Homo sapiens: one gene and its partner. The protein of the gene in region 2 purifies or fractionates together with the protein of the main gene of each other region. This does not show direct contact. Each region holds a gene or a part of one and is shown on either strand. Other genes may lie near its edges. The genes, in order: SNX8 and AKT3.

Region 1 (16,348 bases), on a different chromosome or scaffold from region 2:
GGTGCCTGCCACCAAGCCTGGCTAATTTTTTTTTTCTTTTTTTTGATGGTGTCTCTGTCGTCCAGGCTGGAGTGCAGTGGCGCAATCTTGGCTCACTCCAACCTCTTCCTCCTAGGTTCAAGCAATTCTCCTGCCTCAGCCTCCTGAGTAGCTGGAATTACAGGTGCACGCCACCGCACCCAGCTAATTTTTGTATTTTTAGTAGAGGCGGGGTTTCACCATGTTAGTCAGGCTAGTCTTGAACTCCTGACCTCGTGATCCACCCGCCTCGGCCTCCCAAAGTGCTAGGATTACAGGCGTAAGCCACCACGCCCGGCCGGTTTTTTGGGGTTTGTTTTGCTTTTTTTTGTTTTCCTTTTTTGTTTTGTATTTTTATTAGAGATGGGGTTTTGCTATGTTGGCCAGGCTGGTCTCAAACTCCTGACCTCAAGTGATCCGACAGCCTCAGCCTCCCAAAGTGCTGGGATTACAGGAAGGAGCCACCGCGCCAGCCTGAAGAAGAGGTTTAAAAAGAAAAAACCAAAAACAAAAAAACTACCAAGTAGCTACCTTAGTCTTTTTTGGAAAAAGACCAAACTTTAAACATTTAATAATAAACAAATGTAACAATGAATCCCCAGAAATCTGAAAAGGTGCTGACACAAGCATCCGTCTGTCTGAGTCACAGAAAAGGGCAGAGGGCACGAGGTGCCTGGAGGGCCTGAGGGCAGAGCTCAGCCGCAACCCGGCCCTGCTGCTTAGAGGCTCGGGGCCTTGGCAAATGACAGCCTCCCTGAGCCTGTTTCTCCATCCGTAAAACAGGCCTCCCAGCCCTGTGTCGGAGCAACTGAAACGAGGGTTAAATGAGGAAACCATGCGACAGATGTCAGCATAATCCCTGCCACGCAGAGGAGGCAAAATCACTTTGAAGGGTTAAAACTTGTTTCTCTGGTTAAAAAGGGATGTACTCTTCAAAGTTAGAAAAATACCTTGGCCCTCTCCCTCCCCCTCCCCCTCCCCCTCCCCCTCTCCCTCTCCCTCACCCCACAGTCTCCCTCTCATGCGGAGCCGAAGCTGGACTGTACTGCTGCCATCTCGGCTCACTGCAACCTCCCTGCCTGATTCTCCTGCCTCAGTCTGCCGAATGCCTGCGATTGCAGGCACGCGCCGCCACGCCTGACTGGTTTTGGTGGAGACGGGGTTTCGCTGTGTTGGCCGGGCCGGTCTCCAGCCCCTAACCGCGAGTGATCCGCCAACCTCGGCCTCCCGAGGTGCCGGGATTGCAGACGGAGTCTCGTTCACTCAGTGCTCAATGGTGCCCAGGCTGGAGTGCAGTGACGTGATCTCGGCTCACTACAACCTACACCTCCCAGCCGCCTGCCTTGGCCTCCCAAAGTGCCGAGACTGCAGCCTCTGCCCGGCCGCCACCCCGTCTGGGAAGTGAGGAGTGTCTCTGCCTGGCCGCCCATCGTCTGGGATGTGAGGAGCCCCTCTGCCTGGCTGCCCAGTCTGGAAAGTGAGGAGCGTCTCCGCCCGGCCGCCATCCCATCTAGGAAGTGAGGAGCGCCTCTTCCCAGCCGCCATCACATCTAGGAAGTGAGGAGCGTCTCTGCCCGGCCGCCCATAGTCTGAGATGTGGGGAGCGCCTCTGCCCCGCCGCCCCATCTGGGATGTGAGGAGCGCCTCTGCCCGGCCGAGACCCCGTCTGGGAGGTGAGGAGCGTCTCTGCCCGGCCAGCCACCCCGTCCGGGAGGGAGATGGGGGGGTCAGCCCCACCACCTGGCCAGCCGCCCCGTCCGGGAGGGAGGTGGGGGGGTCAGCCCCCCGCCTGGCCAGCCGCCCCATCCGGGAGGGAGGTGGGGGGCGTCAGCCCTCCGCCCGGCCAGCCGCCCCATCTGGGATGTGAGGAGCGCCTCTGCCCGGCGAGACCCCGTCTGGGAGGTGAGGAGCGTCTCTGCCCGGCCGCCCCGTCTGAGAAGTGAGGAGACCCTCTGCCTGGCAACCACCCCGTCTGAGAAGTGAGGAGCCCCTCCGCCCGGCAGCTGCCCTGTCTGAGAAGTGAGGAGCCTCTCCGCCCGGCAGCCACCCCATCTGGGAAGTGAGGAGCGTCTCCGCCCGGCAGCCACCCCATCCGGGAGGGAGGTGGGGGGGGTCAGCCCCCCGCCCGGCCAGCCGCCCCATCCGGGAGGGAGGTGGGGGGTCAGCCCCCCCGCCCGGCCAGCCGTGCCATCCGGGAGGGAGGTGGGGGGGTCAGCCCCCCGCCTGGCCAGCCGCCCTGTCCGGGAGGGAGGTGGGGGGGTCAGCCCTCCGCCCAGCCAGCCGCCCCGTCTGGGAGGTGAGGGGCGCCTCTGCCCGGCCGCCCCTACTGGGAAGTGAGGAGCCCCTCTGCCCAGCCAGCCGCCCCGTCCGGGAGGGAGGTGGGGGGGGTCAGCCCCCCAGCCCGGCCAGCCGCCCCGTCCGGGAGGTGAGGGGCGCCTCTGCCCGGCCGCCCCTACTGGGAAGTGAGGAGGCCCTCTGCCCGGCCAGCCGCCCCGTCCGGGAGGGAGGTGGGGGGGTCAGCCCCCCGCCCGGCCAGCCGCCCCGTCCGGGAGGGAGGTGGGGGGGGGTCAGCCCCCCTGCCTGGCCAGCCGCCCCGTCCGGGAGGTGAGGGGCGCCTCTGCCCGGCCACCCCTACTGGGAAGTGAGGAGCCCCTCTGCCCGGCCACCACCCCGTCTGGGAGGTGTGCCCAACAGCTCATTGAGAACGGGCCAGGATGACAATGGCGGCTTTGTGGAATAGAAAGGCGGGAAAGGTGGGGAAAAGATTGAGAAATCGGATGGTTGCCGTGTCTGTGTAGAAAGAAGTAGACATGGGAGACTTTTCATTTTGTTCTGTACTAAGAAAAATTCCTCTGCCTTGGGATCCTGTTGATCTGTGACCTTACCCCCAACCCTGTGCTGTGTCCACTCAGGGTTAAATGGATTAAGGGCGGTGCAGGATGTGCTTTGTTAAACAGATGCTTGAAGGCAGCATGCTCGTTAAGAGTCATCACCACTCCCTAATCTCAAGTAATCAGGGACACAAACACTGCGGAAGGCCGCAGGGTCCTCTGCCTAGGAAAACCAGAGACCTTTGTTCACTTGTTTATCTGCTGACCTTCCCTCCACTATTGTCCCATGACCCTGCCAAATCCCCCTCTGCGAGAAACACCCAAGAATGATCAATAAAAAAATAAATTAAAAAAAAAAAAAAAGAAAAAAAAAAGAAAAATACCTTGGCCCTGGTAGCCAGCTTACAGTTCAGGAATTCGTCCCCGACGCACTGTGCTGACTCCTTTAACTTGTTCTGCACATCCTGCAAAAGGAAAACACACAGCTTCACCCTCTTCTACTAGCAGCAAGAAAGCTGCTGTGGGGTATGGGTCACTGTGGAGCGGGAGGTCGTCTTTCCTCAGGAGAAACACATTTCCATATGTTGGCTTTGACATTAGTATTCTGCAATCTCTTGACTCTCCCTTAGATGTTTTTCTCACCAAACAGGACAGCCTGGCTTCACAGCAGGAGCACCACAAACCTGCAGCCTCTCTCCAGAGGCACAGCCACTCCATCCGCAGACGGGGGGCAGCTCTCCAGAGAAACAGCCACTCCATCCACAGACCAGGGGCGGCTCTGCAGAGAAACGGCCCCTCCATCCACAGACCCGGGGCGGCGTCAGCCCCAGAGATACCTGAGACCCTGGTAGCTTCCAAAAACGCAATAGAACAGGGCAAAAGTGTCTTCCTTCCTGGGAATGCATCCATGGCGCCAGGGACACCAGAGCCCAGGGAGCTGCTGGGCAGAGGGACAGGCCCAGCCCCTGGCACCGGAGCCCTCTCATCTGAAAGAGGCCTCCTGGGCAAAGCCGTGCCTTAAAGTCAGGAGCCACCCAGGAGATACAAGGGGAAACCCTAATATGCAGCTGTTTGCGTGTCCAGGAATTCTCAGGTTTCAGAGATGCCTTAAAGATCATCTGACTCAACTCTCATTTTACAAAAAAAAAAAAAAAAAAAAAAAAAAAGACCTGAGGCCCAGCATGGTGCGTGCCTGTAGTCCCAGCTACTCAGAGCCTGAGGCGGGAGGATCGCTGGAGCCCAGGGGTTCAGGGCCAGCCTGGGTAACATAGTGAGACCCCATCTCTAAAAACAGAAAGCAAGCAAGAAAACTGAGGCCGGGAAGTGACAGAGAATGATACCTGTGGGAAGGCCACAGGGAACGTCCTGCCCCCAGAACAGGGATATTGCCCACCTGTGACCCACTGCACCCCTGCCCACCGCCCCTCCCAGGTCCTGCCACATTCCTCTGCTGGCAATGCAGATCGCCTCCAAAGGAAGGTTTCCAACCCCAGGGCTCAAAAGATCCCACTGCCTGCTCCAGACATCCCCGGGGGCATCCCAGGGACATCTCAGGCACAGGGGGAAGGCCCCTCTGCCTCCGAGAGGAACGAAGACAAAAGGAACCAAGGCTTGTGTGAAGTCAGCCTGGGAGAGGGGGTGTCTTCCTGCAGCAGGGACAAGGACAGAGGCCGTCAGGTCCCCATTCAAGACGGGGTTTCCCTGAAATAGAGGAGAGCCTGGAAACCTCTATTCCAGTGGAGCCCCCGCCCCTCCCCGCACAGGGAGAGGGTCCTGCAGGCACAGGTGGAGGAGAAGCACAGGACCCGCCTTCCCTGGAGGGGCTGGCAGCTGCTTCCTCCTCCAGGAAACAGGAGCTGGGCTGCAGGGTTGTTTTTTGTTTTTTTGAGACAGGGTCTCACTCTGTCGCCCAGGCTGGAGTGCAGTGGCACAATCACAGCTCACTGCAAGCTCCACCTCCTGGGTTCAAGCGATTCTCATGCCTCAGCCTCCCAAGTGACTGGGATTACAGGTGTGCACCACCATGCCTGGCCTCAGTTTTGTTTTGGTAGAGACGAAGTCTCGCTATGTTGTCCAGGCTGGTCTCAAACGCCTGGGCTTAAGGGACCATCCAGCCTCGGCCTCTCCGAGCGCTGGGATTAGAGGCGTGGGCCACTGTACCTGCGAACTGTAGCTTCTTGACACACAATAAGGCTGTGCCGCAGCAGCTGGGAGGAGGGAAGCCCCACTCAGACCTCTGACGGAGTGCATGTACAACAAGTTAATTCCCGGATGCAGGTGTGGGCTGTGGCTCTGACAAGGAGGCTCAGCCTGTGTTCCAGTGGTCCTTAGTCAGACAGGGCCTTGTTTTAAGTCAACACTTCTTCCCATCTGGAGTCTCTGGCACCTCCCTAAACCCTCCAAACCATCCAGCCTAAATCCTCAAAGTGACCACAGAGATCCATGATCTCCACGCGGATTTACAAAATCCTGCAAAGTCAACACCAGGGACACCTCTGAAAATCACATTCAGACTGTTATCTGGAAAGGAAAGAAGTCTTGTCCATGTCATTCCTGCTGGGCGTCCAAACAAGGGACCAGGAGGATAAGAAACCACACCTGAGAGAGGAAAAGGCGGGTCCGGAGGCTCGGGGACTCCCCGGGGCCGGGACATGGGCAGGGCAGACACACTCACCGAGCCGCTGAAGGACAGGAAGAGCTTGAGGACCACATCCTCGGAGAACAGGGGGTGTCGCGCCACCAGGTTGACGAAGCGCTTCAGGGCTCTCCTCCTGGCCTCGATGAACTCCCTGTCAGCTGGAGGAGCACACGGGGTCACTGGACAGAGTCCAGGGCGCCGGCCCCCATCTTCTGCTCTGGGCGAGTTCTCAAAACTCTCCCTAGAGGTGGCAGAGGGCCCAGCGGCTAGCAGAGGGCACTGGCTGGGCCCCCAGTGCTGCTCAGACAATGGGTCTGAAAAGGCCGCCCAGAGCAATAACCTCACCCCCAGAGGCCCCCTCCAGCCACACACACTTGGGTCCAGGAGCTGCCAAGGAAAACCACAGATCTGCTTGTTTCCATCGGGAGTCCTGGGAACCACGTGAGTGGTCACTTTAATCACCTCCGTTAAAGACATCTTCCATAATCCCCTCCTGGCACTTCTCACTGCAAACAAATGGGTTTTGCTACGCTCTAACACTAACGCAACCCAGGTCTTCTTTTCTTTTTTTTTTTTTTGAGACAGAGTTTCGCTCCTGTTGCCCAGGCTGGAGTGCAGTGGCGCAATCTCGGCTCACTGCTACCTCCGCCTTCCAGGTTCAAGCGATTCTCCTGTCTCAGCCTCTGGAATTAGCTGGGATTACAGGGGCCCGCCAACATGCCTGGCTAATTTTTGTATTTTTAGTAGAGATGGGGTTTCACCATGTTGGTCACGCTGGTCTCCAACTCCTGACCTCAGGTGATCCACCTGCCTCGGCCTCCCAAAGTGCTGATATTACAGGCGTAAGCCACCGCGCCCGGCCGAGTTTTTCTATTCACTGTGCTTATAACTTACTCTGCAAAGGATGCAATTACTCATTGCTTTCATTCGGGTTAAATATTTTCACTCCAAGGGGAAAAAAAGTAAAAGCATATACTGATGCATTCAGGACATTTCAATCTGAACACAAACAAAAATGGTATTTAAATACTTTTTTTGAGACGGAGTTTCACTCTTGTCGCCCAGGCTGGAGTGCAGTGGTGTCATCTCGGCTCACTGCAACCTCTAACTCCCAGGTTCAAGCGATTCTCCTGCCTCAGCCTCCCAAGTAGCTGGGATTACAGGCACCCGCCACCACACCTGGCTAATGTTTATACTTTTATTAGAGAGGAGGTTTCACCATGTTGGTCATGCTGGTCTCGAACTCCTGACCTCAGGTGATCCGCCCACCTCAGCCTCCCAAAGTGCTGGGATTACAGGCATGAGCCACCAGCGCCCAGCCTTTAAATACTATTTTTAATGTATTAAGAAATACAGCCAGGAGTGTGGCTCACACCTGTAATCCCAGCCTCTTGGGAGGCTGAGGAGGGCAGATCACTTGAGGCCAAGGAGTTCTACATCAGCCTGGCCAGCGTAGCGAAACCCTGTCTCTGAAAAATACCATAAAAGAGGCCAGGCGCAGTGGCTCACACCTGTAATCCCAGCACTTTGGGAGGCTGAGGCAGGTGGATCATGAGGTCAGGAGATTGAGACCATCCTAACACGGTGAAACCCCATCTCCACTAAAAATACAAAAAAAAATAATTAGCCAGGCGTGGTGGCGGGCGCCTGTAGTCCCAGCTACTTGGGAGACTCAGGCAGGAGAATGGCGTGAACCCGGCAGGCGGAGCTTGCAGTGAGCCGAGACCGCACCACTGCACTCCAGCCTGGGTGACACGGCGAGTCTTCGTCTCAAAAACAAAAACAAAAACAAAAAACACCATAAAAGAGGCCAGGTGCGGTGGCTCACACCTGTAATCCCAGCACTTTGGGAGGCTGAGGTGCGCGGATCACGAGGTCAGGAGATTGAGACCATCCTGGCTAACACGGTGAAACCCCGTCTCTACTAAAAATACAAAAAAATTAGCCAGGCGTGGTGGCGGGCGCCTGTAGTCCCAGCTACGCGGGAGGCTGAGGCAGGAGAATGGCGTGAACCCGGGAGGCGGAGCTTGCCATGAGCCGAGATTGCACCACTGCACTCCAGCCTGGGCGACAGAGCGAGACTCCATGTAAAAAAAAAAAAAAAACACCATAAAAGAAAGAAAACAAACAATACAGGTAGGTGGCTGGGGCTCCCTCCTGGCTCAGCACTGGCAGGCCTCTTCCGATGAGGCTGCACTTCCTTAAATGCGCAAGCGGCCCAGCGCGCGTGTGCAGTTTCCAGGCGCTGAACGCCAGCCAGCGCTCATCAACTCGGATGCCCAGGCCTGAGCCAGCATCACACATCCCTGTCGCGTCCTCTGCTCTCTGCTGCCCTGAGCGCCCGTGTGCCCTTCAGCGTGAGCTGAATGATCTGCTCTGTGGCCTTCACATGCGGCGGGGTGAAAATCACATCATCAGACCCTGGGCTGCTTGCTCAGTGACCGATGAGAGGCAGAAGCATTTATGCATCATCGTACGATTTCAGATGCGGGGAACTGGCGACTGTGTTAGCTCCCATGCTGCGTCCCCGTCCAGGACACGGTGACTGTGGAAGGGCTGGGAACGGCAGAAAGCCATGATCAGCTCTAAGCACTCATTTCCCCAGCATGTTTTATTCAGAATTTGAGGAACGGGCTGAGGGAGAGACCACCAGTGAGATCAGAGCTGGCAGCCGCCATCCCAAGCTCTGCAGCCCAGGGGGACACAGGCCTGGGGAGCAGCTCTGAGGTCGTCTGCGATCTCCCACCTGGCCCGAGGCCATCTTCAGGCAGAGAGGTGAAGGTGAGGCAGCCGTGTGCTGCTTTTTCTCTCCTGCAAGATGCAGCTGACATTTCCTACTTGCACAACTCAGTTCTCTTCCATGAGGCCACCGAGCGCTCCCATGGTGCCCATGGCTCAGGCTGCCATGGCTTTGCAGATGCAGGCAGGGCAATGCCAGCCAGGTGAGCACACAGTGCTCCTGGCAGCCCTCTCGGGAGCTCTCGGGAGCCCTGGCCACTGCACTCTGGAGAGGAGAACTAGGGTTCTCTTTCACACCTGCACAGCAAGGGCTTCCCCACCTGTCAGTCATGCAGCTGAAGGCTCTGGTGGGCCAAGGCTGCCGGGTGCCAGTCTCCCTGCCTGCACCAAGGCTGGGCTCAAGCCACAGCTCTGTCCCAGATGCCAAAAGGCTGGAGTTTCCCCCGCAGCCCTGCACCTGCCCCGGTCTACAGTGGGGTCCATCCCTGAGCCAGGACCACAGGGTCCAGGAGATGGGCTCGCTCCCTCCGCCCCCGGTGGGCAGCACGCCTGGCTTTACCTCCCAGCATTCTCTTGGGTGGCAGGGCAGGCACCATACGGTAGGGGAACTTGTGCAGGAGCATCTCCTGGAAGACCACGAAGTCATTGTACCGTCTGTATACCGAGGACTTGAAGCGCTGCAAGAGAAGGGTCGGTGCTTAGATCCGACGTTGGAAACTATGCTGTCGCGTCACTTCCCCTCAACAGAGCCCGGGAAAACGACAGCACCAAGTGCATCTTCTCTCACCAGGCCTTTACTAAATGGAGAAACCCTGTGACGGCTTCGTATATGGAAATACAACTTTTAAACTTTGTATAGCTCTTAGGCCGGGTGCGGTGGCTCCCGCCTGTAATCTCAGCATTCTGGGAGGTTGAGGCGGGTGAATCACCTGAGGTCAGGAGTTAAAGAGACCAGCCTGGCCAACATGGCAAAATCCCATCTCTACTAAAAATACAAAAATTAGCTGGGCATGGTGGTGGGCGGCTGTAGTCCCAGCTACTTTGGAGCCTGAGGCAGGAGAATCCCTTGAACCCTGGAGACAGAGGTTGCAGTGATCCAAGATCGTGCCACTGCACTCTAGCCTGGACGACAAAGCGAGACCTTGTCTTAAAAAAATTAAAAAAGGCCGGGCGCGGTGGCTCACGCCTGCATTCCCAGCACTTTGGGAGGCCGAGACAGGCGGATCATGAGGTCAGGAGATCGAGACCATCCTGGCCAACACGGTGAAACCTCGTCTCTACTAAAAACACAAAAAATTAGCCGGGCGTGGTGGTGGGCACCTGTAGTCCCAGCTACTCAGGAAGCTGAGGCAGGAGAATGGCGTGAACCCGGGAGGCAGAGCTTGCGGTGAGCTGAGATCACGCCACTGCACTCCAGCCTGGGCGGCAGAGCGAGACTCCATTTCAAAAAAAAAAAAAAAACTAAACAAATGGTATGAAGCATAGTGGCTTCCCACCTGGTCAGTGACTGGCCCGTTACACACACATCAGGGTGACCAAACTGCCCCCTTGACAAATGTTCCCTATGTGGCAATGAATTTACTTAAGGGACGGGCAGCTTAGTAAGACTGGACAAAAGGCCAGCCGCTGGCTCCCTGGCAGGCAACGGCACGTCTCACACGCTCAGAGTTGCCTCACCCCCAGGCTGCCAGGCCCCAGAAGGAAGGGGTGGCTCGCTCTGCTCCCCCGTGGCATCCCACCAGCTGGTCCACATCCCCGACTGCGGCCCAGAGGGCCGGGAACCACGGCAAAGCCAGACAGCAAGGCGGCTCTGACACGGTCCTCCAAGGGAGTCCTCCCCTCTGACCCGCTTTGTCCTTTGGTAGCAGTACTGACAACCATTCGGACCGTGTGGCCACAGGCTCTGGAACACAGTGAAGCACAGCAGAGCAGACGGCAGGGAGGGGAGACCGGCTCGCTTGTCCTTAAGGCCAGGTGCAGTGGCTCATGCCTGTGAGCCTAGCACTTTGGCGGGCCAAAGTGAGAGGACTGCTTGAGCCCAGGAGTTCGAGACCAGCTGAGACAACATAGCAAGTCTCCATTTGTACTTTAAAAAAAAAAAAAAAAAAAAGACTGGGCATGGTGGCTCACGCCTGTAATCCCAGCACTTTGGGAAACCAAGGCAGGAGGACCACTTGAGCCCAGGAGCTCAAGACCAGCCTGGACAATATAGTGAGATCCCATCTCTACAAATAATTTAAAAAACTGCCTGGTGTGGTGGCATCCGCCTGTGGTTCCAGCTACTCAGGAGACTGAGGTGGGAGGGTTGCTTGAGCCTGGGAGGTTGAGGCTGTAGTGAGCTATGATCGTGCCACTGCACTCCAGCCTGGTTGACAGAGCAATACCCTGTCTCTTTAAAAACAAGCAAACAAAAAGACACAACTTTTACCCAGGACCATCTGCTCATGACGCTTTTCAAACAAGCCCCTGGCAGTGCCGTCCGGCCGGGGCTGGGCCAGGGCCGCCCTCTCCCACACAGGAGTGGGCCCTGCTCTGTCTGTGCGAATCCCACAAGCCCTGCTGACTCCACACCTCCCAAGGACAGTGTTAGCTCATCAATTACTCAATGCCCAGGATGAACAATGAAAACTCCCATCAGAATCTGTCGTAATGGAACTGAGACAACGAAGCAAGGGACAGAGAGAGCCACGGTGTTGCTCCAGACGGGCATCAGGCACTCGGTGTCTGTGTCTCACCTGCCCAATATCGGGATGCCCAGCAACAGGAGGGCCGTGTTATTAAAGGGGATTAGAGTGACACATATTGATCCTGCCATGCAAATTTCATTCACTGTTTGGGGTCCGGAGTCGATGGGGCTGACATTCTAATCCTCGGGGGTTTCCCACTATTACAAAGCGAGGCTGGTGTGGATCCCGCTTTGTGCTCTGTGGACCGTCCGCGGGAGATTCCTAAGAAACAGGCCTCCAGGCCGGGCGCGGTGGCTCACGCCAGTAATCCCAGCACTTTGGGAGGCCGAGGCGGGTGGATCATAAGGTCAGGAGATCAAGACCACCCTGGCTAACATGGTGAAACCCTGTCTCTACTAAAAAAAAAAATACAAAAAAATTTGCCAGGCGTGGTGGCGGGCACCTGTCATCCCAGCTACTTGGGAGGCTGAGGCAGGAGAATCGCTTGAACCCGGGAGGCAGAGTTTGCAGTGAGCCGAGATCATGCCACTGCACTCCAGCCTGGGCGACAGAGCAAGACTCCACATCGGGGAAAAAAAAAAAAGAAACAGGACTCCAGAGCACAGTGGTGGGGAGGACAAACTGGACCAGGGGTGACCAGGTGGGGACGTGGCTGGGCCAGAGTGAGGTGCGGGGAGCAGAGGTGTGGAAAAGTCACCTCCGCAGCCTGACTCTGCTGCGAGTTCTGGATCTTGCCTGTAAGCCAGCCACACAGACTCACCCTTCAGCCTTCTCCTGTCACACCACTCCTGCCCTGAGATGTTGAGACGTGACCCTTTCTTCCCCCTCCTGCCCCGACACACACACAATTTGCCAGTTACCTGGCTGGAAACCTCATACTCCACATGCTTCAGGAAGAGGCCCTTCTTCTCCGGAATGAGCTCCACCTGCACGGTGTCCCTGGCCAGCAGCTCCTGCAGGGTGTGGGACAGCAGCAGCGGGTTCCCCTGCGGCATCTGCATTCGACTGGGGGCTGGGACCTGCTGCACGATGGCCTGGGGCTCGATGGCCTGGGGTGTCGGCAGATCTGCAGGGGAGATGGTGAATGACCAGTGAGAATAGCTGCTCAAAAGCTGGAGCCTTGGCTGGGCACAGTGGCGCAGCCCTGTAATCCCAGCACTTTGGGAGGCCCAGGAGGGAGTATCACTTGAGCCCTGGAGTTCAAGACCAGCCTAGGTAATATGGTGAGACCCCATCTGTACAAAAAATAAAATAAATTGAAAAGTGCAGCCTCCCTCTGCTGTGTGCTAGCTCAGCACATGGACTCTGGCCACGTCATGCAACAGGTCCCATCGTCAGCCAGCCACACTCACTCACTCACACTACGGAGTCGACGCCGGACTCACTCACACTACGGAGTCGAAGCCGGACTCACACTACGGAGTCGACGCCGGACTCACTCACACTACGGAGTCGACGCCGGACTCACTCACACTACGGAGTCGAAGCCGGACTCACTCACACTACGGAGTCGAAGCCGGACTCACTCACACTACGGAGTCGACGCCGGACTCACTCACACTACGGAGTCGACGCCGGACTCACACTACGGAGTCGACGCCGGACTCACTCACACTACGGAGTCGACGCCGGACTCACTCACACTACGGAGTCGAAGCCGGACTCACTCACACTACGGAGTCGACGCCGGACTCACTCACACTACGGAGTCGACGCCGGACTCACTCACACTACGGAGTCGACGCCGGACTCACACTACGGAGTCGACGCCGGACTCACTCACACTACGGAGTCGAAGCCGGACTCACTCACACTACGGAGTCGACGCCGGACTCACTCACACTACGGAGTCGAAGCCGGACTCACTCACACTACGGAGTCGACGCCGGACTCACTCACACTACGGAGTCGAAGCCGGACTCACTCACACTACGGAGTCGACGCCGGACTCACTCACACTACGGAGTCGACGCCGGACTCACTCACACTACGGAGTCGACGCCGGACTCACTCACACTACGGAGTCGAAGCCGGACTCACTCACACTACGGAGTCGAAGCCGGACTCACTCACACTACGGAGTCGACGCTGGACTCACTCACACTACGGAGTCGACGCTGGACTCACTCACACTACACCCACTCATGCTACGGAGTCAACGCTGGACCCACTCACTCATGCTACAGAGTCGACGCTGCGGGCACGTCCTTTTGTTCAAAAAAATCATGGTGGTCAGGCACCATGGCTCACGCCTGTAATCCTGGGACTTGGGGAGACCGAGGCAAGAGGATCGCTTGAGCTCAGGAGTTCAAGACCACCCTGGGCAAGATGGCAAAACCCCATCGCTACAAAAAATACAAAATTAGCCATGCGTGGTGGCTCACTGGCTAATTTTGCAGTCCCAGCTACTCGGGAGGTGAGAGGATCACCTGAGTCCGGGAAGGCGGAGGCTGCAGTGAGCCATGATTGCACCACTGCATTCTAGCCTAGGCAACAGAGTGAGACCCTGTCTCAAAAAAAAAGAAAAAAAAAAAAAAAAAACTCTTCCCTGGAAGGCTTCCACCTGCTCACGAATCAGCAAGTACACCCACATTTCTGTGACTACATCAAATCAGTCTTAACCTTGGGGAAGGAAAACAAAGTGAAATATGTACAAGTTTTGTGTGAAAAAGAATCTTCCTTTTCTCTAGAGCCAAGAGAACAGGCTCAAACCAAATAAACTAGCCATACGATCTTCTAAATGCCCCAGTGTGTTCACAGTGAACACATTACTTTCATATGCCAAAAAGTCATCTGGACAGACAGGAGGGAGGGGAGAGAAGAAGGGAGGAAAGAAAGAGAAAAAACTCCAGGCCTGCTTATAGCTAGGACTCCCAACCACATGCACGGAAGAATTAAGCCAGAAAACTCCAGCTGCCTTACAGACAAGAAGTCACCGTGCACCCTGCACAAAGCAGCAAAAGCAAATCAGAGATCCTACGCCCAGCTTGCAAAGAAAAAACCAAAACAAGGAATAATGTTTAAAAAGTCAGTTTGGTTTTTAATACAAAGTGAGTTCTAAATAGAAAAAAAAGTGTTTCTCATTTTTTTTGTTTTTTACATGTTAGCGCACACCTGTAATCCCAGCTACTCAGGAGGTTGAGGCAGGAAAATTATCACTTAAACTCAGGAAGCGGAGGTTGTGGTGAGCCCAGATCACGCCACTGCACTCCAGCCTGGGCAACAGAGACTCTGTCTCAAAAAAAAAAAAAAGTTTAAAATAAGTGTTCTCTATTAAGCATGTATTAATTTTTATGATTTTCCTGATTATTAAGATAAGATAATCTTCCAAGAAAGAATGTAAACTCAGTAATGATTACCAAGTGGTCACATGTTGGTGAAGAATTTGAACTTTGATTGCATGAGAATCTGAAAGAGCTCAAAAAACACATTTTAAATCAAAGACACTTCTTTAACTCTCGATTGTCTCAAACATCTCAATAACTTCTATGTACAAGTTCCAATCATTAGAAAGCTATGCTTTCAAATATCAATTTACTAAACTAGAATGCCCTTTTTTTTTTTTTTTTGAGAGACAGAGTCTCGCTCTGTTGCCCAGGCTGGAGTGCAATGGCACAATCTTGGCTCACTGCAACCTCCACCTCCCGGGTTCAAGCAATTCTGCTGCCTCAGCCTCCAGAGTAAGTGGGATGACAGGCGTGCACCAATATGCCCAGCTAATTTTTGTATTTTTAGTAGAAACAGGGTTTTACCATGTTGGCCAGACTGGTCTCAAACTCCTGACCTCAAATGATCCACCCACCTCAGCCTCCCAAAGTGCTGGGATTACAGGCATGAGACACCGCGCCCGGCCAGATGCCCATATTTGCAAAATAAATTTTAATTAAGAAAAAGAAAGAAAAAGACCAGGTACTATGGCTAGCACCTACAATCCCAGCACTTTGGGAGGCTGAGGCAAGAGGATCACTTGAGCCCAGGAGTTAAAGACCAGCCTGGGCAACATAATAAGATGCCATCTCTACAAAAAATAAAATTACGGGCATGTTGGCGCAACCTGTAGTCCCAGCTACTCAGGAGGCTGAGGCAGGAGGATTGCTTGAGCCCAAGAGTTCACGGCTGCGGTATGCCAAGATTGGGCCACTGCACTCCAGCCTGGGTGACAGAGTAAGACCCTGTCTATAAAAACAAAAAGGAAAAAAAAAAAAACATCATTTCAAATGGGTACACTGCCAGGTGACGGACCACACACTGCAGAACGGGCAGAAACACCAGGAGGAGGAGCCCGGCTTTCTGCAGGAATAAACGTTATGCTCACTAATGGAACTTCAATACTCTATCAAACTGACACCCCTTGAAGCAGTGCACACAGCCCATAAGACACAGAGCCTGGACAATACACCCTAAACTAACCCAGTCCCACAGAGAGAAAACAGATGAGATGAGGGAGGCCAGCTTGGCCCCCAGCTGGAAAGGCTGTGGACGCAGGATGGGATCTGGCTCAGAGAGATCCTGGCTGAAATCCAGCCTCCATCATTTCCTAGCTTTGTGGCCTAGCACGCAGCCGCCTCTGAGCTTACTGTTCAAATCCGTGCGGTGGGTGTAAGGATGCCCTCACCCCTGGGCCTGGCCATCGCCATCTATGCCCTGATACTACAGCAACCCCCCACAGGCCCCTCGAACGACAGCCCCTCCCCACTCCAACCCTTCTGGCACCAAACTGCTTCACTGTGGGCTTCAGACCCAACCCGGAACCTGGACTTGGAAGTGTCTTGCCCCTGAAATGCCGCTCACTATCTGTGAGACCCTGGGAGGGAAGCAGCCCCTCAGATCCCAGGCCAAGGGCCTCAGAATTCAGTGAGGTGGGAGAGCTGAAAATAACTAGCAAATAGAAAACATTCAATAAGTGTCCCTGACTTCCTTCCAGATTTACCACGCTCCAATCCGAAAAGATTCTGCAGATCTACCCACTAAAACTCAGAATGCATTCCCCTCTCAGCAAGTTTTCGGTGGCGGTCAGCTCCCAGACTGGCTCACAAATTGGTGCCTTCCACACAATGTGTGGGAGTCACACTTGGATGCTGCACTTGCAAAGATAAACTGTGAGAGGGGGCTGGGCAGCTGTCACAGAAACCAGGCATGCGGTGAGGGGCAAAGTCAGGCCCAAGTCAGCCGCCGGCCCACTGTGACCCCTCTTTGCAACAAAAAAAGGGGAAACAACCCACAAGCAACATTCAAGATCCTTTCAGCCTCACAAGTCTGTGAATCTCCAAGCGAGTTATCCACAAATCAGAAGGTAACGAAACTTCAAACACACACACCCATCTCCCGCCCAGTGTCTTTCACCAGGAACTTCAGACAGTAACAACACAGAGCAGGTGAGCACTACATTCTTTTCACAGCTGACATCTCGGGCCTCCCACCCCAGAGACCGCAGC
Region 2 (16,348 bases):
GTCATTGTGCAAAAAAGTTGTCCCCAATGCAGTCTCAGGAGTCACTGACTTCAAAATAAAGAAACGGTCTCTTCGTAGTAAATGTAGTACCTCGTGGCTTTCCCAAAGTCATTGAAAACGAATATCCCTAAAAAGGGTGTGATTTCAAGAGTGAATTACGATCCGCCCGCAATCTGTGTACCGTGTGTGGACGAATGCTTGCAGCGAGCGGTGCGGAAGGCTGTTCAGAGAGGTGTTTTTGGTCTGCCGTGGTCTCCTGGGATAGTCAGGAATGATTCTTGCTACGGGCTGACCCGGGTTCCCTCTTCCCCGAGGTGCAGGGGGTGGGGTCGGCTTCTGGACTGCTCCGCGCTCTCCGGTCCCTACCTCATTGGGCACCGCCCACTTCGTGGGCTTCCAGGTGCGAGCCCTCGCGCCGGGCCCATCTCCCCAAGGGGCCGCGGCGGACTGGAGGAGACGCCCGGGGCCTGGCGGCGCGCGCGTCCGCGGCCAGGGCGGGTGGGCGGATGCGCCGAGGAAGCGGCTGGGCGAGGAGCCTCCGCTCCCGGGCCTCGGGTGCCCGCCAAGGGCCACGCGGGCGAGGGGGAAACCCAGAACTTCCCGCCCGGGAGCGACTGCCCCCGCTCCCGGCTCTGGCTGGCTAGGGGGATGTTCTCGCGAGAGGAGAGGGGGCGCGGGGCACCGCTGGTTTGGGGGCGCGGGGAAGCCTGAGGACGAGGGCCGGGCAGGGAGGGGAGCAGAGGCGGCGGGCAGGGCCGGGGACGCGGGGAAGCCGCTCCCGCCAGTCGCCGAGAGCCAGCCCCTGACGTCAGGAGTTTTCCTCAAAGTCAACAACAAGCCCCGCGGCGACGGCGAGAACCGATCGGCGGCGGCCCCGAGCGGGAGGAAGGAGGGGGCGGGGAGGCGGCGGGGGGTCCCCTCAGCGAGGCGCAGCCCGGGAGGAGGCCGCAGAACCCCTCCCCGCGCCGGGCGCGCCCCGGGGCCCAGAGCCGCCGCCCCGCCGGCGTGACCCGGCCCCCGCCCGAGCGGTGTTTTCTGGTGATGAATTTGTAGCCGATATCCGATTCCCATGTAGAGTCTCCGCCTCCTCCTCTCCCCGCCGCCGCCCTCTCTCCTCCCTCCCCCTCCCGCCGCCGCCGCCGCCGCCGCCGCCTCCCGCTCCAGCTCCGCGGCCCGGCCCGGCCGGCTCCCTCCCTCCCTCCCCTGCAGCCCTTCGCTTGCCCTCCCGCCGGCCGCACCGGGCTCCAGGAGGCCAGAGGCTCTGTGGGGTGGGGGGAGGACAGGAGGGGAGGAGGAGGGAGGGGGGACCCCCGAGTCGCCCCCTCTCCTCCCCCCGCCCCCCCCCGGCTCCATCCTCCGCCGCCGCCCGAGCAGCTGCGGGGCCGCCACCGCCGCCGCCGCCGTTGCAGGTAACAGCCACCGCCCCCAACTCTAGCCCCCTCCCCGCCTGGCCTCCACTCCCTCCGGGCCCCGGGCCCCGGTCCGCCCTCCCTGCCTCCCTCAGGCGGGGGATGGCGGCGGGGTGGGGTGAGGCGGGGGCTTCTGGGTTGTCACCGCGCCGGGGGCGTGGGCGGGGGCTGGGTCACCGGAGGCTTCGGGTGTGGGTGTGGAGGCCGGGGGATGCCCAGCGCGGTTGACACCGACACCCCCCGCTTTCCGGGGAAAGCTGGGGGGCGGCGGTGCGCAGCGGGCCGGGGGAGGGGTGTTCCCGGCCTAGCGGTACCGTCTGTGTCTGGGCTGCCCCGGCCCGGCGCCTGCTGTCTGCGCAACTCTCGCTCCTTCCCCTCGCCCCTCCCCGCCCGGGCCGCGCGGCGTGGGGAGGGGGCGCCCGCCTGGACCGGGGGCGGCGGCGAGGTTATATAACGCGTGGAGCGCCGGTGTCAGTGTGTTTGGGTTGGGGGGAGGGAGCCGTCTGCCGCGCGCCCTGGCGCTGAGGCTGTCTGCGCGTGGGGTGGGGTGAAGGCGAGGATGCACAGGCGTCCCCGGGGTCTCCTTCCTTCCCCCACCCTTCCCCGCCACTGGCGCGCAGGAAAAGACGGCACTGGTGGGGTGGGGGGGGGGGTGTGTGTGTGGGAGGTGGGTAACGTGCTTGTCTGTGTTTTTAATAGTAGTGGGGTTTTGATCCGCTTGGGAGTTGTGTGCTAAGAATAGAAATGTGCGGAAGATGCTGGGTTTGGCTGATCCAGTGATGCTGTCGCTGCTGGCGGCGGCGGCAGCTCTGGCTGCAAGTAAACAGACCAGCCTCTTCCTTGTCCACCTCCTCCGGCGCATCGGTCCGCATCAGCCATGATGCCGGTGGGGCCCTTCAGAGCCCAAAGTTGAAGCCTAGCTGGTTGCTGTGTTGACCCTGACGCCGAGGCGGGGTCACCATCCCTTGTTTGGGATTTCCCGGGAATCTACAGTTAGCCTAGAGATAAAGAATCTCGTTGGGGCCAGGTTTTTCCAATACCGGTATTTACTGTTTATGTTCTGAAAGCAGAGGAAATGCTTACCCACAAGTCAAAGCTGGGATGCTCACATTTCTTCCATCAAAATAATGTTGTTATGAAAATAAAACCAACTCATTTCACCAATGTGGCATTTTGGTTGAAAGCCTGGTAGTTTGCAATTGATGAAGTTTCCAAATAGAAAGTCAACAGTGAAACCTATGCATCTATATTGGGTAATTTCTAGCCATAATAAAGTGTTCACACTTTGATTTTAGTTGAGGCTAAAGTAAAAAATAATGGCTTTTTGTAGTTAATACATTGGCAGTTGTCTCAACAGTTTAGACATGTGTTCCGTATTTGGTAAAGCATGGTCATATATGTCTTTTAGTAGAACTATACATCACTAGGCAACCACTGGGTTTTGTCAGTGGTTGAAGCTGACAAATGAGTGAAACTCATTGGTTTAGGTTATGTATTTACTTAGGAAAACGAAGGTGGAAGAGTCTAATAAAGATGGTGTAGGAAATGAAGATTAGTCTTCAGAACTTGAGTATCACTTGCAAAATATGTATAAACGAATACAAACATTCCGGGGGTGGTTGTCTAAAACATGAAAATATTTTATAATTAAAATAGCAACTTATTACTAAGTTACTAGTTTTCCAAGGTTTATGACTTAATGCACAATTATATGCAAGATATATATCCGGACTGTAATTGTTTTCCTTTTGCCAGTACATTATCTTGACTTGGAAAGTTTACCAAGGAGATAGTACTTGAAAGTTTACAGGGAGATGGTACTTGAAGATCTTTTTGTTTTCCTTACTAGGGTTGACCCCAATATCTTTGATTGGCTTGAGGTTCCAGTTTTAAAGTGAGGGAGGACAAATATTACATGAATGAGACTGTTGAAATTTAGATGAATGTAGGGTTTTAGTTTTCAGTTGTGTATTTGCATTGTGGTTTTGCAGCATGTTTTCTTACAGCGTTTTAAAAATAGTCCAAAGTAATCCTGCAAAAATTGTGAAATTATTATTTGTATTCATTTGGTTTTCTTTCCATAATTATTACTGGAGTGAATTGTTTTCCAATTTAAAATTAATTTTTGGCTTAATAATCTTGACATCGACTCTAAATTGTATATGTCAGAGTACTTTAAGGTTTTGCTTTGGACTTTTTAAAAATTAATTTCATAGCTGTAAAATATTTTAAATAAGATTATATTTAACAAATACTGGAGTGTGAACTGTGTGCTGGTTTAATTAAAAACTTTTAATATTTACATTTCATTCAGAAAATCACTGTCAGAAGGAATCTGTTTTCAGAATCACTGCAAATCTAAATAAACGTGTTGATTAAACTTACTAGGGAACAAATGGACTTAGCATAGAGACTTGTGGAAAGTAAGGACTTATTTTTTAAGCTGTAGCTTTTGATGTAAACATCAGAAATTTTCTCATAAAAATTCAGTGGAAATTTCCAGCTATCTGGGTTTCTTTAAAATGAGGAACCTGTTTTACAAATTGATTTTGTAGAAGTTTAGCCTTTACTTAAACTTTGTGTATTTTCGTGAAAAGATAGCTATGTTTTCTTTTGTTATTATATCTTTTAGTTCAAGAATTTGTCCTTGGGAAGGTAAGGCAATCACTGTTAACAACTTGTTAGTTGGATGCTTAGCATGATTTGATAGGAGCTTGTCTTTATAGTGTGATTAAGTTTTGAAGTGTTAAAAAGAAAAATTTAAAACTATCTTAGATTTGAGCAACAAAATGCAAGAACTGAAAAACCATTTTCATTTTGAGCAAATCAGTCTTGTGATCTGACTGGCATTTTTATTTTTAAGTTAATATGCATTAATAATACAATTAATTTTTGTTAGAAGATTTGTGTTACTCCAGGTTTCAGCATGTGCATCAGTATTTTAAATCCTGGTCACACAGCATACCTTCTTTTGGAAAGATAGTCCTGAATCTTCCGACAACAAATACTTTGTCCTGATCTTTTACATGGGATAGGATTAGATTCAGTTTAGAGTTAATGCTAACCAATGCCTGGTAAGCAGTTGCCATGTGCCAGGCACTGTTCTATGTGCTTTACCTGTATTCATTTAATCTTTCAAACAACCCCTGCTACACTTTTGAAAGTGATTTTCACATAAGAAAAACTTATTGTGGCATTCTAAAAATACCTTTTATTTAAACTTTCCTAATTCTGCAACACTTCTAGTGTTTTTCTTGTTTGTACCTATTATTACAGTTAACAGTGATAATTCTAAATTTGCAAAATTTGGTACAATAATTTCCATAGCATCAAGTTAATAAAAGTGTATTGACTGGCCCATTAACATCACCTTTCATTTGTTTAAAATGCCAAATTAAATAACTCAAATGTTTACAGATTTTATTATAGCATCATAGTCTTTAATCAAATTAGATGTAAACTCATTTTCTCTGCCAAGTAATCTTTGAATACTAATGGGTAGATAAAATTAATATATGCTTCTTGACTTGTTGATGTGTTTTTTAGTTCTGTTTCTTTTCAGTACTCTATCACCAACTACAGGTATTTCTCATTTCTAAATATTATGAGAGGAAAGTAAAAAGATTTACTAGAAGAAAACACTAGAATTGCAAATGATAATTTTTCTTCCCTATATTAGATAATTCCTATATATATATGGATGGATTTAAAAAAATTTATAATTAGGGAGATTCCCAAGACAGATTTTAGGAGGATTTTACATGTATATTGGAATCTATATTAGAAAGCTTCTGACTGTATTTGGGGGACTAGGGGATGGGAGGGGAAGGAGGACAGTATTTTTCCAATAATGGAGCTTAGCCCAAATTTTGTCTTAGTTGAAATGCTGTTTGAATGTTTTATCTTCCAATTATCAAACTTTTGAGGACATGAACTATGTATGTATAATCATGTCTTTCACTTATGATGCCATCTATATATGAAGTAGATACTCCGTAGATTTTAACTTGCAGAATCATAAATATTAGCTCTGGAAGAGCTATAAAGCTATTCAGAGTTCATCTAATGCTATACTTTCATTTTTATGGCTCCGGAAACTGAGGCACAGATAATTAAAGTGACCTTATACAGCATCACTCTGGGTGGGGCAGGGACTCAAGTTTCTTGGTCTTTCTGGTGCTCTTCCTAATACACCATTGTGATGAACCTTGTTAGAGGATTCCATACCTATTGGGTAGCTCAGTTTAATCTGGGGGTAAATTCTGTCAAGCTGATTCTTGGTATTTAATGGACCATATATCAATTGCATTTTATATGTATGTATGGATTTTTAAAAATTTATGATGAGGCTCCCAAGACAGATTTTAAAATGATTTTACATGCATATTACAAAAATATGGCCAACTGTGCAACCAAATTCTTTTTCTTTTCTTTTCTTTTTTTTTTTTTTTGAGACAGGTTCTCACTGTAGCACCCAGGCACGGTCACCACTCAGCATAGCCTAGACTTCCTGGGCTCAGGTGATCCTCCCACCTCAGCCTCCTGAGTAGCTGGGACTACAGGTGCCTGCCACCACTCCCAGCTAATTTTTGTATTTTTTGTGGAGATGGGTTTTGCCATGTTGCCCAGGCTGGCCTTGAACTCCTGGACATAAGTGATCCTCCTGCCCTGGCCTCCCAAAGTGCTGGGATTACAAACTAATATCCCTTTTTGACACTCTACAGCAACAGACTCATGGTGATTTTGAGGAGTCTCAGCCTTACCTATAGGTTCTGCCTGTGACCTCATAATACATGAGGCTGGTGGTCTTGCATTCAGCTACATAGCTTTTGTCAGGCTATTTAGTCAGGCTGTCTAGAGAATGTTTAGTCTTGATTCCTGACTGTTAAATGGTTAAGCTCCACACTTAATTTGCATTGAAGAATGACCTGTAGTCTAATTTAGCGCTAGGTTGGGAGTCTAACACTGAACTTAACTGCTATGTATCATTTATCACAAACCAAGTTGAGAGAGTATGTTTGTGTAGTCCATCTATCCATTTTTCTAGTTATCTAAAATTTATGATATGATTCTTGACCACATAACACTGGTGTACCTGGACCACATTTTTTGGTCCCCTTCTGTGCAAATGGATTTACTAATTTTATGTTGGCATTTTCCTTTTTAGTTTGAGAGTGACAATAAGCAATGACCCTGTAAAACTCATTGCTGTATATGGGAGGGTGTTTTTGAGGACTTTCCCGCATACATCTTATGAAGAAGACCCATGGGATAAATTCGATGTTTGTCCCAGGAAAAGTTGTATTTCTTCTGAGGAACTTTTTTTGCTTTTTAAAAAAATTTGTGCAGCGTGGACAATATAGCGGGACCCCATCTCCACAAAAATTTTTTTTAAAAATTAGCTAGGCATGGTGATGCCTGCCTGTAGTCCAGCTCCTCAGGAGGCTGAGGTGGGAGGATTGCTTGACCCCCATTGGAGGCTGCAGTGAGCTATGATTGTGCCACTCTACTCTAGCCTGGATGATGGGGGGAAACCCCATCTCAAAAAAAAATTTTTTTTGGATACTGTAAATAGGAAAGCCTGTTGTGTTTTGTTATTTGCATTGTCTTCCCAAGAGCTCCATGCCAAATTTGTGACGTATCTTTCCCAAGTATGTATGCCTTTACTCTGACTTCTTTTTATCTTAAGGCAGTATAGTTTTGGAATGCAGGCTCTGGAGTCAGACAGCCTGGGTTCAGATCTTGGCTCCACATTTACTAGGTGTGTTGAAATTGAGCAAGTTGGTTTATCTGTGTGAGCCTCAGTTTCCTTGTCTGTGAAATGGAATTAATAGTATCCTCATAAGGTTATAAAGATCACATAAGAATAATAGATGTAAGTACCCGTAACAGTTCTTGGCACATCTTGAGTACTAAATATTTTTTTCTACTTTCATATTCCCTTTGTTTCACTTTACTTTATAATAAGTACATAATATGAAATCAATTATTTTTTAATCTCCTTAAAATATTTCTTGGAACAGGCAGAGTAAGAATACGTAAATGATGAGTTCTTGGTACGTTGTATTTTATATCACTTAAAGTATTCACGACTGGTTGTGGTGGCTCACTTCTGTAATCCCAGCACTTTGGGAGGCTGAGGCGGGTGGATCATGAGGTCAGGAGTTTGAGACCAGCCTGGCCAATATGGTGAAACCCCGTTTCTACTAAAAATACAAAAATTAGCAGGGCGTGGTGGCGCACACCTGTAGTCCCAGCTGCTTGGGAGGCTGAGGCAGAAGAATCGCTTGAACCTGGGAGGTGGAGGTTGCAGTGAGCAGAGATCGCGCCACTGTACTCCAGCCTGGCGACAGAGTGAGATTCCGTTTCAAAAAAAAAAAAAACAAAAAATTTACAATTGCTTCTGAAATTACAGGGATTTAGGGCAATTAACTTTCATTCTCTTCCCTCTTCACCTCAAATACACATCACCAAACAAATTTTCTCTATTATTTGGGTAGGCGTGACTGGTTTTCTTAAGACTTTTTTGTTGCAACCTCTTAGGTTAAAAGTTTCACTATCATTTGAAATTGGTCACAAGACTAGGGAAGTGCTTTCATTATAGAACTATTTAATAAATAAGTTCCCCAGTTTGAAGAGCCAGACTTTTATGTGAGGTCAGGCCAGTTGAAGACATTTACAAAGAATTAGTTGTTTGTTATTGCTCTGTGAGTTGCAAGAATGGAAAAAAAATTCTTTCTTCAATACTTCCTTCCAGGCTGAGTCATCACTAGAGAGTGGGAAGGGCAGCAGCAGCAGAGAATCCAAACCCTAAAGCTGATATCACAAAGTACCATTTCTCCAAGTTGGGGGCTCAGAGGGGAGTCATCATGAGCGATGTTACCATTGTGAAAGAAGGTTGGGTTCAGAAGAGGGGTAAGTGCTCCGCAAACCAAAAATAATACGGTTGGTAAGAGTGCTAGCAGTGAGTGGTGTCTTAGAAGTTGATCTTTTTTCTGATACTGTTAAACTGTGTCATGCTATGTCTAGTAAGAGAGAAATGATATATTTAACGTGTGTTAGGAATTTGCTTGTTATTAAGGGATTTTTTTGTAATTCTTGATTTTGAGCATTTATAATCTAGTTAAGTTAGGTTTGACTTTCTGGTATGTTGTGTGTAGCGTGTTACAGAAAGTGTTGTATTTTTCTGTGGTGTCTACAGGTTCTGTAATCTGGAGAGATATCTTTAGAATCATTTAATATATGTAAAAGTACGATCCTATATGCATTTAATCACATGTAAATATATAAATAAGAGAATTAAGCCAGTTTGAATGGTTGTAGGGGAATGGCTTAAAGTAGAAAAGGGGAAAGGGTTCACCCGCAAACTCATGGATTAATCCCATAAATTTGGTAAGTAAAGTCCTGACGTAAAAGGCCAAATGAGGACAAGGATTTTTTGTGTGTGTATGTTTATGTTTAATTTCGTATTTTTATTTTTCATCATCTAGGTTTAATACACCTTGTTCACTCCTACTTTAGATAAATAACTTAAGCACATTATTATTTTTTATTATTAAAGGAAGAACCCTTCGATGTAAAGCGGTTTATCATCTGTGAGATCACCTGCTTATGTGGTCAATATATTTATTAGAAATTTAGAGTTTAGATTAGTTGCTAGGCAACTACTGTTTACCCACATGGCCACGTCGAGTAGGATGAGGACTGTTCCATTCTCAGAACCTTTTAGTTCCTGTATATCTACTTTATGGTTACAAGTTCCCTCCTAATATTGATTTTAATATTTTTTGAAGGTCTGTAGTAAATACCTATCCTGAAAAGCTGTTGTCATAGTTAAATGTGATTATGGATTATTTTTTAAATGAGCCTTATTAAGTCGTAACTTACATAATAAAATTAAGCAATGTAAAGTCATAATTTGATGAGTTTTGCCAGAGATACACAGTAGTGTAACAAACACTCTGAAAACGATATAGTGGTTATTTTCATTAACCCGAGAGGTTCCTTTGTTCTCCCTTGCAGCCCAGTCCTCATCCCTTAACCCTGGCAACCACTTTATCTGCTGTTACTATAATTTTGCTTTTCTAGAATTTCATATAAATGGAATCATGCAGTACATAGTTTTTTTATGGCTGATTTCTTTTACATAGCATAATACTGTTAATATTCATCCATGTCTTGTATATCATTAGCTTTTTTTTTATGGTTGAGTAGTAGTTCATGGTCTGGATATATCACAGTTTATCTGTTAATCACTTGTTGGACATTTGGGCTGCTTCTAGCTTTTGGTTAGTACGAATAAAGAGTCTGGACATTAGAGTGCATGTCTTTGTGTAATGTGTTTTCATTTGTCTTGGGTAATAACTTAGGAATGATATTGCTGGGTCATATGGTAAGTGTGTGTTTAACTTTATAAGAAGTATATGTTTAACAAACTGCCCAGCTGTTTTCCGATGTGCCTGACCATTTGTATTGTCAAGTGTAATTTCTTTCAATGTCATTCTCCTGTTATAAATTACGAAAGCATTTTCAGATTTCAGTGCTTTATAAAGGCTTTTTTGATTTACTTTTTAAACGTATTTATATTATTCTACTTTTTTTGGAGGGGGATGGCAAATCACTTGAACCTTTTTGAGTTTTACTTTACTAATCTCTAAAATCTGCTTTCACAAGATGGTTTTGAGGGTTAAATGAGATGATGGTTGTGGATTTATTTTGACAGTTCTAACACAATGTAAGCTGTTGCTATCTCCACATATTTATCAAAGGTTTAGGATGATTCTTTAGTCTGTTTAATTAATTATATCTTTGAAATACCATAATAGAAAGTATTTAGTCCATGGACTATAGAAAAAAAAATGAATAAGAATTTGCCATCATTTTTCTAATAATGTGTATGTGTTTATTTTGAGATGTGTATGTGTATGTGTTTCTAATAATGTGTATGTGCTTATTTTGAGATGAATAGTTGCATAAACATAAAAATTTGAATAACACACAAAGGTATAAAATGAAAAATAAAAATCTCCCTATCTTTTCTACCTCCTTTGTCAGAGATAATCATTTTAGAACTTTTTTTCCTATTTTTAATTGTCTCATCATTATGCCAGTTTTTTATATAATATACTAAACTTTAACCTTCAGTAACCTAATATCTCCCCATTGTGAAAAATAGAAGGATTTAACTTTTAATACTGATCCTACCTTCTTCCTTTTATTTTTTGGTTGCCTTTATGATTAAACTTATAGCTGTTTAACAGTTAACTTTAGAGTGTTCAGACATTGTCTCTAAACTTGCCACTTTATAAGTTGTAAAAAAAAAAAATTAGCTTTTCTCCTCATCTTTCCCTTGAATTCCTCACATTCCCTTTCCAGTTTTTCAACTGTAACATTTATTTTATATGTCAAGGTTTATAATAGTTATACTTGCTGATTCTGAAAAGCAGTTAAAATATTACATTATATAAATAATATGACTAAACAAAGTGGTATGATGAGATTCTTAGAGAGCAAATGGATTTATTTTATTTTACTTTAAGTTCTGGGATACATGTGCAGAACGTGCAGGTTTGTTACATAGGTATACATGTGCCATGGTGGTTTGCTGCACCTGTCAACCTGTCACCTAGGTTTTAAGCCCCCCATGCATTAGGTCCTCATGCTCTCCCTTACCTTGCCCCCCACCCCCAGCAGGCCCTGGTGTGTGATGTTCCCCTCCTTGTGTCCGTGTGTTCTCATTGGAGAACAAATGGATTTCTTACGCTCTCTTTGTACTCCAGAGCTGCCATACTTTAATTTGGTTTCTAGTTTGGACTGTGGCTATTTTTCCTGGATTTTCTTTATTTTTATTTTATTTTATTTTATTTTTTGAGACGGAGTCTCGTTCTGTCACCCAGGCTGGAATGCAGTGGCATGATCTCGGCTCACTGCAACCTCCGCCTCCCGTGTTCAAGTGATTCCCCTGCCTCAGCCTCCCGAGTAGCTGGGATGCCACCATGCCAGGCTAATTTTTTGTATTTTCAGTAGAGACGAGATTTCACCGTGTTAGCCAGGTTGGTGTCGATCTCCTGACTTCGTGATCTGCCTGCCTTGGCCTCCCAAAGTGCTGGGATTACAGGCGTGAGCCACCGCACCCGGACCTTTTCCTGTATTTTCTGTTTTTTTTTTTTTTTTGAGATGGAGTCATGTTCTCCGTCTCATCAACAACAACAACAAAAAATTGATATAATAAAGTTATAATATAGTTATTACTTTGAATATTAGTCTTTTTTCGTAAGACTATATGCATCAATTGTTGTTATCTCCAGATATAATCTGATTTGTACTTTTAATGTGAGTAAGTTGCTTTTCAGTAAATATCTTCTTGGAAAATAAAAAAAGGGCTGAAAGATAAATATTCATTATTACGTAGGATAAATGCTTTCCTAACCTTGGTTATTAGTGATATATTAATAGTGATATCCTATTTTTTACACTTTTCTGGACAGTTGAAAATGATAAGTATTAATTGAGATAACACATTACCATAGTATTGTTGGTGTTAGAAATGGCAATAAAAGAAACATCACGGAGCAAACATCAAGTAAAGTATTGTCTGCGTTTTCCTCCTTGATGGATCCAGGACAGCTCCTTACAACTTGGTTGCACATCAGCATAGGAGGCATCTCTGTATATATTAAATACTTACTAAATGATCTTACTCAAAGACGAGCCTGTAGGTATGTTCTAGGTGACTCTAAATCTCTAAATTGGATTTCAGCACTTCTCTTAATTTTTTCCCTTATAGCTAGTGGTAATATTTGCTATGAAGGTACTTAGTGTATTAATAAAGTAGGAAATTTAGCCAGTTTAAAAGGTCTAAATTATAGAATTAAATAAATTGCAATAGTATTAATTAAGGGCTTATTATAATTTATTAACTTTCATTTGCTTAATAAAATTTCATAAAAACCTAAGTAGTCTTTTATAAATGTGGAAAGCTAGTTCCTTGATAATAAGTTAAAATATAATGTATAACTAGTCAATTCATAATGTTACTGTTTTGAGATTGTCATAAATCTAAGAGGTGATTTTTATCATTAAAAGCATTTTGATGAAAATGTTCCATGCTCGTGTTACTTTATTCTACTTTTTGTATTAGTATCTAACAAACTGAACTTTCATGTTGTATTCTCTATGTGTAACCAGTTTTGGCTTTCAAATAACTTTTTCCCTTAGTTTTCTTTGTACTGACTTTGTCCTTTGAATAATATTTTTCTTATATTCCATGAAATGGTTTATTTAGATGAACTACAGTGTCGGTATTTGGTAATGCCAGGATAAAGATTTTGTGTCTATGAGTTGTCTCACAAGATAGCTTAATTCTGCTGAGCAAAATATACTTTAGCAACATAAAGATTGTGAACTTGGTTATGCTGTAAGATGTGATTCTTGTTATCTAGTCAAATTTAACAAGTTGTTACAGAAAACAATTTACATTTTTGAGTGTTTATCTAAGTCCAGGGGTCTTTTCTTCTCCTTTATTTTGTGCATGCATGTGTTTTTTTTTGTTCATTTTTTATTCACAAAATGACTTTAGAAATAAGTTATAAAATGATTAGGAGAAAGAAAATGACAGTATGATTTCCTGTTTACTACCCAGCAGCAAGCTTTTTCCATAGAGAGTAAAGAGCTGTGGTAGTGACTGTGTAAACCACATGGTACATTAGAGAAGCTCACTTTGACTGTTGAGGTTATACATGGAGAGTAAACATAAGAAAATTAAATTTATTTTCTAATGGTATTGAAACTCTGAGATTTAACTAATGTATTTACAATACTGTGAAATTAGCTTTTCTTAGAGTTTCAATGTATTATTTTTGAAAGTTTCAACCAATAGAACCACATGGAGCAAACCATCAAATAAGCTTTCATATACATTTTGAAGTTATTTATAGAATTGTAAAGTTGCTGTTACACACACACTTGCTCCTTCTCAATCAACAATCAAGTTTTATGTATTGATTTTGTAAGTTGAAGTCTCATGAAATTCACTTATTAATGTTAGTTTAAAGATTTTCTACATAGATGGTCAAGTTATCTGCGAACATCCACAGTTCTGCTTTTTCCTTTCCAATCTTTATGCCTCTGATTTCTTTTTCTGATCATATTTCACTGGATAGGACCTCCAGTACATTGTTGAATAAAAGTGGTAAGAGTGGATATTTTGCTTTATTGCTCATCTTATTGGGAAAGCATTTATTTTACCACTTAAGTATCACATTAGCTGTTCCTTTTCTGTTGCTGCCCTTTATCAGGTTGAAAAAATTCCCTACTATTCCTAGTTCGGAGAGTTTTTATCATGAGTGGTGGTCAGTTTTTTCTAAAGATTTTACTGCTTCTATTGAAATGGTCATTTGATTTTTTCCTTTTATTCTCTTAATATGGTGAATTACTTTCATTGCTGGAATAAATTCCATTTGGTCATGGTGTATTTAAAAAAATATATTACCAATTTGGACTTACTGATATTTTGCTAAGGGTTTTTTGCATTTACAAGAGTATTGATCTGTAAATTTCTTTTCAGTTTTGATACAGTGGTTATGCTGGATTCATAAAATAGGTTGGGAAGCACTTGTTTCTCATAAGGTGGATTGTATTTTTTCTTCAGTGTTTGACAAAATGTATCAGTGAAGCCATGTGGGTTGGAGCTTTCTTTGTGGGAAGATTTTTGATGATAAATGAGATTTCTTTAGATACAAGGCTATCCATATTTTCTATTTCCTCTTGTGTCATTTTTGGTAAATTGTATTTTTTAAGGATTTCCTTTTCATCCAAGATGTTCGTCTAAGTTACTGGGTGCAAAGTTTTTAATATTCCCTTATCCTTATTTTTATTTTTTTAGTAGAGCCAAGATTTGCTCCATTGCCCAGGCTGACCTTGACGTCCTGGGCACAAGTGATCCTCCCACCTTGGCCTCCCCGAGTGCTGGGATTACAGGCTCCCTTATCTTTTGAATGTCTGTAAGATCTTAGCGATATCTCCTTATTAAATCCTGATATTGGTAAATTATATACTTGCTCTCTTTTTTCCTTTGATAATCTTGCTAGGAGTTTATTCATTTTATGAAATCTTTTTTTTTTTTTTTTTTGAGATGGAGTCTCGCTCTGTCACCAAGCTGGAGTGCAGTGGCGCAGTCTCAGCTCACTGCAACCTCCGCCTCCTGGATTCAAGTTGATTCTCCTGCCTCAGCCTCCTGAGTAGCTGGGATTTACAGTCATGTGCCACCATGCCTGGCTAATTTTCTACTTTTAGTAGAGACAGGGTTTCTCCATTTTGGTCAGGCTGGTCTTGAATTCCTGACCTCAGGTGATCCACCCGCCTTGGCCTTCCAAAGTGCTGGGATTACAGGCCTGAGCCACTGCACCCAGCCAACTTTTTAATGATTTTTTAAATGATCCATTATGTGGTCTTATCATTTGGTCTGTCTGTATTTTATTTTTTGGGGGTATAGTGTTATAAATATCTAGTCAAGATGATTGGTAATGGGTCATAGTCTTCTATGTCTTCACTGACTCGTTTTTTTTTTTTCCTCTAGTTCTGTGACTCAGTGTTATAGTCTCCAGCTATGATTGTGAATTTATCTGTTTCTCTCTTTAGTCCTACCTTTTTAATTTTATATATTTTGAAGCTCTATTATTAGAGGCTTTTTTGTTGTTATATCTTCTTGATGTATTGCTTCTTTTATCCTTATGAAATGTTCACCTTTTTCTCAAGTGACACTCTTTATCTTGGAATTCAGTTTGTGTGATATTAATATAGTAACTCCTGATTTTTTATGATTAGTGTTTGCATCTTGTATCTTTTCAACTGTCCTATTATATTTAGTCTTTGTTTTGTATTTAAACTGTTTCTCTCGTTGACAGCATATGTTTGGGTCGTGTCTTTTTTAAAAAATCTAATTTGACAATCTTTACCTTTTAAATGGGAGTTTTTAGGCCAGTCATATTTAATGTAATTATTGATATGATTGAGTTTTCTGTTTGTGTCATGTGTTCTTTGTATCTTTTCCCTATTTTTTTGCCTTTGTTAGGATTTAGTATCTTTTCAGTATCCTATTTTATCTCTCCTATTGGCTTGTTATTTATGTGTCTTATTTTAAAGCAATTTAAAAATTTATAGTTAATGTTATTGTTGGTGTGGTTGAACTTAGGCATACTGTTATTTTTTTAAAAAAATACCTCTCTTCATACTTTCTTATCTTCTTTTGAGTTAATTGAATTTTTTTCAGTATATTCCACTAACAGTATGCATTCTCAACAGGAGTGGTAATTCTCCTATAGGGCAATCATAGGTTCTTGGAAAAGGGTACAGAATATCCTTTTATATTACAATTGTTTGTGGCTCTCCAATCACATTATATAAACAGATATATCTTTGGTATTAAAATTTCTTGGTGGGGACCGAAGTGATTTAGAGGGAGTTTTCTAAAGAGGCTCCTTAGGTGAGCCAAGGAAAAACCTTTGATAAACAGTTCTGTCATCATTTTAGCTTGCATTGCTTTTTTAGGTATTGTTCTAAGGTAGTGGAATACAGAATACATGTACAGGTTTGTTATATGGATAAATAACATGTTGTAGGGGTTTGGTATACAGATTATTTCGTCATTCAGGTAATAAACATAGTACCCTATAGGTAGTTTTAAGATCCTCACTTTCTCCCACTCTCCACCCTCAAAATACATCCTCAGTGTATACTCTCTAAAGTACAACCAGGGTGATTTTGGTCCCCAGAGGACATTTGGCAATGTCTGGAGACATGTTTGAAATGATGTGGGGGTGGGATTGCTACTGGCATCTAGTGGGTAGAGGCCAGATATGCTGCTGAATGTTCTATAATGGACGGAATAGTATCCCATGGCAAAAAAATTTCCAGTTCAAAATGTTAGTAGTGCTGAGGTT

What was found.
Region 1: the proteins of AKT3 (region 2) and SNX8 purify together in Homo sapiens (affinity purification with mass spectrometry; 2 studies listed by BioGRID and IntAct, with this or other methods). This does not show direct contact.

What each region holds. Positions count from the first base shown.
Region 1 is NC_000007.14:2,266,327-2,282,674, forward strand, and holds part of SNX8 (sorting nexin-8), read right to left. Parts: intron 11,980-16,348; coding exon 11,774-11,979; intron 8,904-11,773; coding exon 8,786-8,903; intron 5,646-8,785; coding exon 5,524-5,645; intron 3,314-5,523; coding exon 3,233-3,313; intron 1-3,232. UniProt on the Homo sapiens protein: May be involved in several stages of intracellular trafficking. May play a role in intracellular protein transport from early endosomes to the trans-Golgi network.
Region 2 is NC_000001.11:243,835,101-243,851,448, reverse strand, and holds the start of AKT3 (RAC-gamma serine/threonine-protein kinase), read left to right. Parts: upstream 1-1,205; 5' UTR 1,206-1,409; intron 1,410-7,864; exon of another isoform or gene 7,865-7,905; intron 7,906-8,166; 5' UTR 8,167-8,278; coding exon 8,279-8,324; intron 8,325-16,348. UniProt on the Homo sapiens protein: AKT3 is one of 3 closely related serine/threonine-protein kinases (AKT1, AKT2 and AKT3) called the AKT kinase, and which regulate many processes including metabolism, proliferation, cell survival, growth and angiogenesis.